3 linked regions of the Homo sapiens genome follow. The protein of the gene in region 3 interacts with the protein of the main gene of each other region in a biochemical or structural test. Each region holds a gene or a part of one and is shown on either strand. Other genes may lie near its edges. The genes, in order: LEP, KLK13 and A2M.

Region 1 (3,655 bases), on a different chromosome or scaffold from region 3:
ACACCACTGCACTCCAGCCTGAGTGACAGAGCAAGACCCTGACACACACACACACACACACACACACACACACACAGATTAGAGCTGAAACAGGAGTAGAAACCTATCTGTATCTCTGATGAGATCAGATCTTTCTGATGAACAGAAAGAATGTAACCCCTGTACTCACACCCTCTCTGCTGGTTACATATGTTAACACGATTTCTCAAATGAGGCTTTTGGTTGCAAATAAGAGAAAATCACTCACGCTGGCCCTGTGTTTTTCAAATTGTTTATTGTGATCAACATTTGAAAAAAGAGCCGAGACTCTCAAGAGTGCATTACCCACGGTAAGGGTGAATTTTACTTCTTGACACTTATTTCTCTTACATGTATCTATCTGTCTCAAATGAAAAATATATTTAGAAAGTTGAAAGCTATCCAAGTGAGTATAAGAAAAGAGTATCTCACCCTGAAGGCTAAGGACAGGGAGGGCCACCAGGCCTCACGAGGACCCAGGAACCACAAAGAAGGCTAGGAAGGAGCACAGGCGGTGACCATACTCTGGCTCAGTGGCTATGTGGGCTCTGGTCTCTCTCAGCTGTTCCATGCATATGAGGCCAAATGTGGCTACCCTAGAGCTTCTGAGCCCTCAACAGAGATGAACTGGACTCTCTGCAGCCCCACTCTAAATTCCTAAGAGAGAAGTTGATTGACCCAATCAGGGTCAGGAGAAGGAAGGGAGGAGGAAAGGGAGGAGAGAAGAGCCTCTTCGTCTCTTGCCTACCACTGGCCAGGCAATTGTAGCCAAGGGGGCTGGAGTGTAAATGCAAACATAGCCATCAAGGGTTGTGTATGTGTGTGTGTGTGTCTGTGTGTGTGTATGTGTGTCTCTTGGGTAGGTTAGATCTCCCAGGAGGTCCCTACTAAACAGACTTAAGCCCGCAAAATTTTAGCTCTCCAGCCTCACACACTCCACCCCTCTACCATATTGAATCTTCCCAAACCAACTATGGCTTTCCCTAACTCCGGAGCTTGGCCTGGAATGCCCTGCTTCCCCTCTTTCCCCTGGGGAACGCCTGTCCTTCAGGCCTCAGTTCACACACTGCCTCCCTTGCAAAGCTCTCCTCCCATCCCCGGAGTCCCTCTTCCCCTTTGTTCTTTGGGTTCTATGCTTCTTCCCTCATAACTCCCACCAGGTTGTGTTAAAATGAGTTGTTCAAGGTCCTGTCTGTTCCACTAGATTCTGAGCAACTTGGAGAACGAAGATCCAAACTTCGCTGCCTTTATTTCCTCCTTTGTTCTTTTCTCATCCCCAAGTCCCTTCCAACTTGGAGTTATGAAGAAAGGAAGGAAGGAAGGGTGGGAGGGAAGAACAGGAGGGGATCCCACAGGAGAATGTGTATAGGGAGAGGACTCAGACTAGCTAAAGCTTTTCCCTCATAATTAATAGCAAATACCATGTTACCTGAATTTAATTCACAGTAGCATACAAAAGACTCGCTTTGTTCTCCCCATTGATGTCATCAGAGGGCTGTGGGCAGGCCTAATCTTGGCTCAGGAGGCCCTCCAGCCTGGATCTAAAGAGCAGCAGATGGGCCAGGCTCGGTGGCTCATGCCTGTAATCCCAGCATTTTGGGAGGCCGAGGCGGGTGGATCACGAGGTCAGGAGTTTGAGACCAGCCTGGCCAAGATGGTGAAGCCTCGTCTCTACTAAAAATACAAAAATTAGCCAGGTGCGGTGGTGGGCGCCTGTATTTCCAGCTACCCGGGAGGCTGAGGAGGCTGAGGCAGGAGAATCGCTTGAACCCGGGAGGCGGAGGTTGCAGTGAGCCGAGGTCACGCCACTGCACTCTAGCCTGGGCAACAGAGCAAGACTCCGTCAAAAAAAAAATAAAAAAATAAAAAAATAAAAAAAATAAAGAGGAGCACACATCTCTGCCCATCCTAACTCCCACTTTGACATTGAGGTCCCCAGGATGGAGGGTCTGCCTCCATCTGCCTTGTCCCCTGCAATGGTGGGAAGGTGATGGAGCTCAAGTCTAGAGGCCACCAGCTTCTTAGGGAGGTAGGAGGTGGAGGGTGGGGTGCGGGCCCTGCACACAACTGCCAAGTGAGGATGGGGGTGGGGTCCACCTGAGGATAAGTAACAGTGAGGCTGGTGCAGAGGACCCAGGTGGAGGTAGACAGCAGAATTTGTGGTGGGGTGGATGGCACATTATATAAGCCTCTCTTGCTGCCCTGTTTACTGAGATTGTTTCATTATCTTTTTTGGCTTTTGTTTTTAAGAGATGGGGTCTTGCTGTGTCACACAGGCTGGAGTGCACTGTGTGATCATACCTCACTGCAGCCTCGACATCCTGGGCTCAGGCAAACCTCCCACCTTGGCCTCCCAAGTAGCTGGGACCACAAGCGTTTGCCACCACACTCAGCTATTTTTATTTTTATTTTTATTTTTTTTAGAGATGGGGTCTTGCTGTGTCGCCCAGGCTGGTCTTGAACTCCTGGGCTCAAGCGATCCTCCTGCCTTGGCCTCCCAAAGCCCTGGGATTATAGGCTGAGCCACCACACCCAGCCACATTTCATCTGTGCAGCTCCAGGGGCTCCACATTCTACTCTTCTCATTTCTTCTCCAGGGTACCCATGGCAAGGGATGAGGGTAGAAGATGGGGCAGCCAGGCCTTGATTAAAGGAGAAGGAAGGCAGCCTGTGGAGAGGGCAGCCCAGGGAGTGCAGAGAGAAGTGGGCCATGAGGGAGACAGCAGAGTGCAGGCTGCGTCCCAAATGAGCATACAGCCCACTGTGAGCCCACCATCTTCCTAGAGACCCCTCTCCTCTCCAGGAGCTGCTTCAGTAGCACTCAGAGGAAAGAATGATGCTGTATCAACATTTCAGCAGCTCATCTTTTAACTCTAAGAAAATGGCAGCTCCTAAATGTTCAAAACTGCTTTGGAAACTTCTGGAGAGAGGTTTTGCAGCTCAGGCAGACAGCTGATCGCGGCCTTTCTTCCACCCCAACCCATGCTCTCCCCATGCTCTCCTGCCACAGCTGCAGCGGGCCCCTGGGTCCTACATTTGCAGCCCTTTGTCTCTGAGCTCAGACTTCCAATTCCAAGCGGCAGCTGGGCAGGCTCACCAGCATGTCCAGCCAGTACTAGGACATCAGCAGGAGCCCAACCACCTCTTTCCAAAATCTCTCCTCATGTCTCTCCTAGTTTCCATCTCCATCCTTCTAGTCAGCCAGGCTGAAAACATTTGCTCCTCAGGGTGCAGAAGGGAAAGCTTTGCCTCCCTTCCTGGTGCTCACTGCCCCTGCGATTCCAGCCCAAGCCCTCCCCGGCTCCTCACCCTGGTGTCAGCTGGAAGCCACCATCTCCTAAACCCACCTGTGTTCTTCCACCTCTGCCAGGGCTGCCCTCTCCTCCACCTTCACAAACTCAATTCCTACCCATTCTCAGGTCCCTTATCAAATGCCATCTCCTCCATGATGCCTCCCTGATTCCCCTGCTGGAAATAATGGTGATAACAGCTAAGGCATTGGGGTTGGCTACGTGCCAGGCAAGGAGTTGGCACTTTACATGCTTTATCTCATTTCAGCCACATAACATCGACAGGTGGCATTATGATTCATATCATCCCCATCTGATAGCCAGGAAAACTGAGTCCCAGAGAGGTT
Region 2 (3,639 bases), on a different chromosome or scaffold from region 3:
TCCAACTTCGCTCAGATGAGGAGTGTCGTCAAGTCTACCCAGGAAAGATCACTGACAACATGTTGTGTGCCGGCACAAAAGAGGGTGGCAAAGACTCCTGTGAGGTGAGGCCGGGAGGCTGGTGGGTGCCTTGGACAGGATAGAAAGCCAGAATGGAAGTGACAGATGCTGGGGAAAAAGCTTTGTTTCCAGCCTTAGGGGAACCAATCTTTATAAGATACAATGTCCCCTCACATAGGAGGTCAAGACAAAAAGGGGTACCCAGGGATGGCAGGAATAATTCATCATAAGCCCCAGCTTTGACTGAGTGGCTGCCAAGATCCCTGTGTTGAGATGCATAAAGGTTGGTATTCTTTCACTTGTGAGTGATAGACAACCAACTCAAACTGGCTTAAACAAAATGCAGGCTTTTGTAACTGAAAATCCAGGTTGTCTGGCTTTAGGCACAGATGGATCCAGGTATGCAAATTGTGTGTTTGGAATTCTGTCTTTCTTTTAACTCTCAGCTCTTCTTTATTCTGTTTTGGCTTCATTCTCGGTTAGATTCTTCCCATGACAAGATGGCCCCAGCAGCTTTGAGCTTACATCCTACCCTCTAGGCAACCCTATTAGAAAGAGAACCTCTCTTTTCCAATAGTTCACACAAAAGTCTTAAGCATGATTCTCACTAGGCTGACCTAAGTCATGTGTCTTGAGCCATCACTCCACCAGAGCTGTGGGATTCTCTGATGGGCCAAGCCTGAGTCACATAGTTAACTGTGGGTGCTGGAGAGGGGCAGGGACAAACTGCATGGATTGGAAGTGGAGAAGGGCAGTTCCCCAAATGAAAAAATCAGGAGAGGCTGTTACCAAAATAAGGGGAAATGGCCAAGTACAGTAGTTCATGCCTGTAATCCCAGCACTTTGGGAGGCTGAGGTGAGAGGATTACTTGAGCCCAGGAGTTTGAGACCAGCCTGGGCAACATAGTGAGACTCTGTCTCTACAAAAAGAAAAAAAAGTTTTTAAATTAGCCAGGTGTGGTGGAGTACAACTGCAGTCCTAGTTACTCGGGAGGCTGAGGCAGAAGGACTATTTGAACCCAGGAGTTCAAGGCTGCAGTGAGGTATGATCATGCCACTGCACTCCAGCCTGGGTGATAGAGCAAGGCCCTGTCTCTAAAACAAAAAGAAATAAATAGAGCAAGACACTGTCTCTAATAAATAAATAAATAAAAATTTAAAAATGAATGTTTAATTTTTTAAAAATAAGAGGAAATGGATACTACATGAGCAAAAAATAGCCTTCATCAATAAAGAAGTTGAGATTGGATTCAGTGAGAAAGAGTATGATACTATATTAATGATATGTGCCTTGATCGATTAGTGATGTCTGCCTTGGGCCCAGGAAGAGAAATAGACTTACACGTGTGTTGCATACCCTGCCCAGATATGAATGGGTTCACTCAATAGTGAGAGACACAAATGAGCCTTAAATAGGAGCAGGGTCAGCTGGTGTGGGGCAGGGGGTGATTTAGTACCAGGGAAACAAAAATGGGTATGAAGTAAGTTGTTACCATTTTAATGAAACTGAGGAACAGAGAAAAACACAGAAATTTCTCTGTGTCTCTCTTTCTCTGGGCCTATCTCTGTCTTTCTGTCCCTATTTCTGTCTCTTGCTGTCTGTCCCTCTGTGTTTGTCTTCTTGTCTGTTTCTCACTGTCTTCATTGCTTTCTCTCACACTGTGTGTGTCTGACTCTGCCTCTCTGAGTCTCCTTCTCTGTGTGTGTCTCTCTCCATCTTTCACTCTCTCCCCACACCTCCCTGTCCCTGCCTTGTTTAGCCCCAGCAAGGACCCACCTCTCTCTCTCTTTCTTTCCCCAACTCAGGGTGACTCTGGGGGCCCCCTGGTCTGTAACAGAACACTGTATGGCATCGTCTCCTGGGGAGACTTCCCATGTGGGCAACCTGACCGGCCTGGTGTCTACACCCGTGTCTCAAGATACGTCCTGTGGATCCGTGAAACAATCCGAAAATATGAAACCCAGCAGCAAAAATGGTTGAAGGGCCCACAATAAAAGTTGAGAAATGTACCGGCTTCCATCCTGTCACCATGACTTCCTCACATGGTCTGCTTAGCCCTTCTCTGCTCCTTATTCCCAGTGTTCCATTTGAACCAGTGATCCATGTCCTGAAAAATGCTCAATCTCAGCTAACATTCCATGTTTCAGAAGCATTCAGGCACTGCCAGGCTTGCAGTCTCCCAGATGTTGCATCCCTGAAACATCTCAACAACCTGAATGTCCCAACCCAGACAATGGCCCAGGTCTCTCAACTTCATCAGTGTGGCTTCTATGAGCCCAGATCACCACCTGAACGTTCTGTCTGTGGCACATTCTTAAATATTTCCATCAGCCCATCTCAACAATATATGTCCTATAAATGGACCATCCTTGACAACATCCTCTAACTCTTCAAGTATTTATTCAATGCCAGTATCCTAGACCTTCTATTTTTTGCACTCAAGAAGGCTCTAGACTCCCATGATAGTTCATCCTGAAAATATTCTCTTATGCCCACAATCTTCTGCCCTGACAACATTCTGTGTACCTCTGTGACTCACCACAGCTAACATTGGATCCTCAGAATATTTCATTCTCACACTGTTATGGGTGTCTCAGAAGTCCCAACCCAACCTACATCCCACATTCTTCCAATACCCCACCTCTGCCAACATTCCCTCTCTGAATCAATGGCACCCTAGTCTCTAGAGTTATAGGGTTCAGTATACCAAAGGGTCTTCTTGCCTGAACTTTATTGTCTACCAAATATTCCGTCTTGTATCCCCTCCATGAACATCCTTGGTCAGTGTCCCTTGCTGTTACATCTTTGTGCATGACCCTAAAATGTAGTGCAAATCCTTGCTTTGGACAAGTTATAAAACTCACAGTCTCTGTGCTTTCTCATCTGTAAAATGGGTTCATAATTTTTTTTAATTGTAACATTATTACAAGAATAAATGTCAAGCATTTATCACTATTATTATTTGCATGGTTCCCATAAAATATTACCTTAGAATGTTAATAACAGCCCTTCGAATTTGCAGAGTGTCCAAAAAAAGTGTTGCACTGATTTATTTTCCTCAGGAGACATTTCTTCAGTGTTGACTATGTGCAAGCACTCTCCTGGGTGTTGTTAAATATAGTTTATTTACTCAACAAATATTTGTACCTATCAAGAGCCAGGCACTGTTGCAGAGACAAGTGATAACCAATGAGTTAAACAGATAAAAACTTCTGCCCTTGTAGAACTTACATTCTTTTCAAGAAGTCTCCATAACAATGAATAAAGAAATAGGCTGTCAGGTGGTGCTGCAAGCCATAGCAAGAAATGAAACAAGGGCCATATGTGGTAGCTCATGCCTGTAATACCAACACTGGGAGGCCAAGGTGGGAGGATCGCTTGACACCAGGAGTTCAAGACCAGCCTGGACAACATAGCAAGATCCCATCTCTACAAAAAAGTTTAAAAAATTAGCTGGACATGGTGGCACAAGTCTGTAGTCCCAGCTAATCAGAAGGCTGAGGCAGGATGATTGCATGAGCCCAGGAGTTTGAGGCTGCAGTGAGCTGTGATTGTGCCAGTACACTCAAGCCTGGGTG
Region 3 (3,655 bases):
TAAAAATAGATTTATTCTTCTGTAAATTTGTGTATGAAATGTATGTAATTATCCTAAGGCCTTATTAAAATTAGTAGAGTTTTCCCCCCTTCTTTTGAAACAGCATTGTACAAGTCACTCAATCTCCTTCTCATGGTTTACCAGGCAGTCTCAGGTTTTTATGACATTTTCTCACAAGAATCTCAAAATTCATGCTGACCAGTTTCATTACGATGCTAACACTAACTTTGTATGGAAACAGGTGGGTAGGTGGTTTTAATTTTTATTTTGAAGTATTAAAGATTCTACAATAATGTTTATTTCATGGATAGTATATTTACACTATTTTTCTATAACAAGTATATTTCTAAAACAGTGAACATGGGGTAAAACACTGCTATTTAAGGTTCTCAGATTTTTGAATTATGAATTTTCATGTTATCTACCAAAAAAATCTTCTCTTACAATTTTTCTGTTGTCAGCAGATGTGCAAATGGATCTTTATGACTCTAGAAGTCTGAGATCACAGTTACATGTGCCTCAATGTGTATTTACTGTGTATCATTTTCTTAATGTAAATGTTACAGGATTTCAGCTATGAAGGGTGTAAAAGAGGCATAGACTCAACAAAGTGGAGTACATTCTAGAAGGCTTGGTTATGTCATGACACCAAAATGTATTCAACTTCCTAAAATGAAAGTGTAGCTCATTTGTAAATTTCTCAGAAAGATAGTGTACTTTGTAAGTACATTTTATTGCTGTTAAATATCCTATTTGTCATAAGACTCTCTAGCTAGAAGAAAATCAGAATTATGTGCCTATTCTTGTCTTTGTACATGCAGCCAACATTTCACTGGCAAACTTAGATTTTGTAAATCAATTATGAGTACTGATGGGGGTCAGCCTATTGTTCTTCCTGCTACCAACTGTAGCTTATACTGAAAAAGAATTGCCACCTTTACAATCTGAACTGGACTACTCAACTGCCAATACAATATTAGCAGTAAATTAGATTTGGCAACTTATTTAATACTGTGTGCCTCTTTTCAATTTTATATTTTTCACATGGGAAGTGTGTCATAAAATCTGCCTACCTTCCAAAAGGCTGAAGATCTAGGTTGAGAAGCAGAGACCATGTCTAAGGCAACTGGAGAAACACACAGGACAATGTATTGGCAATTGTTTACTTGTGCACTTATGAGACTTCAGACACTAATCTATAGGAAGTTAATGGTCCACTCCAAAATAGGTGTTTGGGGCACAAATAAATTTAGTTAATAGATTAATAGATTAAAATATTTCATTATCATATTACTCTAGTGCTCTGTGACTCTCTAAGAGTTATATATAATAATACACAGCACTTCCAAAATATCTAGAAGACATTTTTCAGGTCACTCTTGTTATTATCCCTATCACTCTCTATCCCTTCACACTGCTCTGTTTTTCTTCTTAGGATTGATTACTACTAAATTAGTGTATGTTATGTATATATTTATTTAGCATCTATCTCTTTCACTAGACAGTAAGCTCTGTGATGGAAGAAACTTCGTTTTTTTTCACTGCTGTGTCCTCAGTGCCTGGAACCATGTTCAACATAGAGGAGGCACTAAAAAATGTGATAAATGAATATGTTTGGTGCCTATTAGTTATTACCAATATAACTAATCCACAGCTTTTAATCTTCAGGTGCGCCTAGTAGATGGGAAAGGCGTCCCTATACCAAATAAAGTCATATTCATCAGAGGAAATGAAGCAAACTATTACTCCAATGCTACCACGGATGAGCATGGCCTTGTACAGTTCTCTATCAACACCACCAATGTTATGGGTACCTCTCTTACTGTTAGGGTAAGTTTGGAAAGAAATTACCAATGACATGAAGTAGCCTTGGAAACAAGGTTGCAACCTAAGGGTGAGAAAATTTCCAAACTGTGTCTAGTTCTATGGAGAGAAAAAAACTAGCAATTAGAAACCGATTGAAGGTTAACTTTTTTAAAGTTTATGAAAAGAAGGCAGTATATTGTGATTAAAAGTGCGGGTTAGACTTTAGCAGTGTTGCTGGGAACGTAAAATGGCGGAGCCACTATGAAAAACAGTATAGTAGTTCCTGAAAAAATTAAAAAATAGAATTACCAAATGATCCAGTAATCCTACTTCTGGACATATATTCAAAAGAATCGAAAACGGGGTCTCAAAGAGCTATTTGCACACCCGTGTTCATAGCCGCACTATTCACAATAGCTGAGAGATCGAGGCTACCCAAATGTCCATCAAGGGATGAACAGGTAAACAAAATGTGGTATATAAATACAACAGAATATTATGCAGCCTGAGAAGGGAAGAAAATCCTGTCACATGCTACAGCATGAATGATCCTTGAGGACGTTATGGTAAGTGAAATAAGCTAGTCACAAAAAGACCAATACTGTATGATTCACGTACATGGGGTTTCTAAAGTAGTCAAAGTCATAGAAACAGAAAACAGGATGGTGGTTGCCAAGGGCTAGGGAAAGAGAGAAATGGGGAATTCCTCTTATTGGTATTCAGGTTTAGTTTTACAAGATGAAAAGTTCTGGAGATCTGTTGCACAACAGATATACTTAATACTACCAAACTGTACACTAAAGAATAATGAAGATGGTAATTTTATGTTGTGTGTGTGTGTGTGTTTATAATAACTTTTTTGAAAAGTGTGAATTCCAGAATCTGAATCAGATAAAGTGGTTAAAAATACTGGCTCAACCCTATTTTAAGGAATTAACTAAAACCTCTGTGCTTCATTTCCTTATCTGTAAAATGATTGCAATACTAACACCTGACTCTTGGGGTGGTTGTGAAGATTAAGTGAAATCATACATGTTGAATCACTTAGTAAGCCCCCTTTAACTGTTAGATACTTTTACTATAAAAGCCAATTCTAACATAATTAGCATTTAGTTTTAAATATATATACTCCAAAAATTATTACCTTACTTTATTTTGTCTTGCTATTCTAATTTTCTCCAGATGACCTGTTCATACCAATATAAGTTATTCGGTATAGCATGCAGTCCTCTATTCATCAAGAGAGATGTAGACATGTCTATAGATACATGGATATACAATACATATTTAATATATATTACATAATCATGGTAATGGAAAACGCCTGCCTCTTTAGAGTTTTACCTTGTTATAGAGAAATAAATAATACATTTTATTTATTTAGCTTTAATAGATGGCATAAAAGCACCTCCCTCTAATTTGAATGTTTACTCATTTCAAAAAGTGTCTTGAATGCTTTCCACGTGCCAGCACTGTGCTAGTCTTGACAATGAAATTATTATTTCTACCTGTTCCCTGTTTGGGGTGATCATATATGTGTTGTCACCAAAATATACATTAAGATATGAACAAAATGTTTTGCTCAAGGATTCACTAGTGCTATTGGGAGCTGGGGATGAAGGTAGAGGAAGCCTGAAAGGAGCTAAGGAATAACTTCTACAGGAAGAAAAGTTGGAAATATAACCCAAATAGGGCCTCTGAGGTATTAGAATCCAGATTGCAGGGAGCATTAAAAATAGTCAGCCTAGGCCAGGCACGGTAGCTCACGCCTGTAATCCCAGCACTTTGGGAGGCTGAGGTGGGTGGATTGCGTGAGGCCAGGAGATCGAGACGAGCCTAGGCAACGTGG

Evidence for each region.
Region 1: the proteins of A2M (region 3) and LEP form a complex in vitro, tested with the Homo sapiens proteins (one study listed by BioGRID).
Region 2: the proteins of A2M (region 3) and KLK13 form a complex in vitro, tested with the Homo sapiens proteins (one study listed by BioGRID).

Annotation. Positions count from the first base shown.
Region 1 is NC_000007.14:128,244,206-128,247,860, forward strand, and holds part of LEP (leptin precursor), read left to right. Parts: intron 1-3,655. UniProt on the Homo sapiens protein: Key player in the regulation of energy balance and body weight control. Once released into the circulation, has central and peripheral effects by binding LEPR, found in many tissues, which results in the activation of several major signaling pathways.
Region 2 is NC_000019.10:51,055,003-51,058,641, reverse strand, and holds the end of KLK13 (kallikrein-13 isoform 1 precursor), read left to right. Parts: coding exon 1-104; intron 105-1,866; coding exon 1,867-2,055; 3' UTR 2,056-3,016; downstream 3,017-3,639.
Region 3 is NC_000012.12:9,102,414-9,106,068, reverse strand, and holds part of A2M (alpha-2-macroglobulin isoform a precursor), read left to right. Parts: intron 1-1,668; coding exon 1,669-1,830; intron 1,831-3,655. UniProt on the Homo sapiens protein: Is able to inhibit all four classes of proteinases by a unique 'trapping' mechanism. This protein has a peptide stretch, called the 'bait region' which contains specific cleavage sites for different proteinases.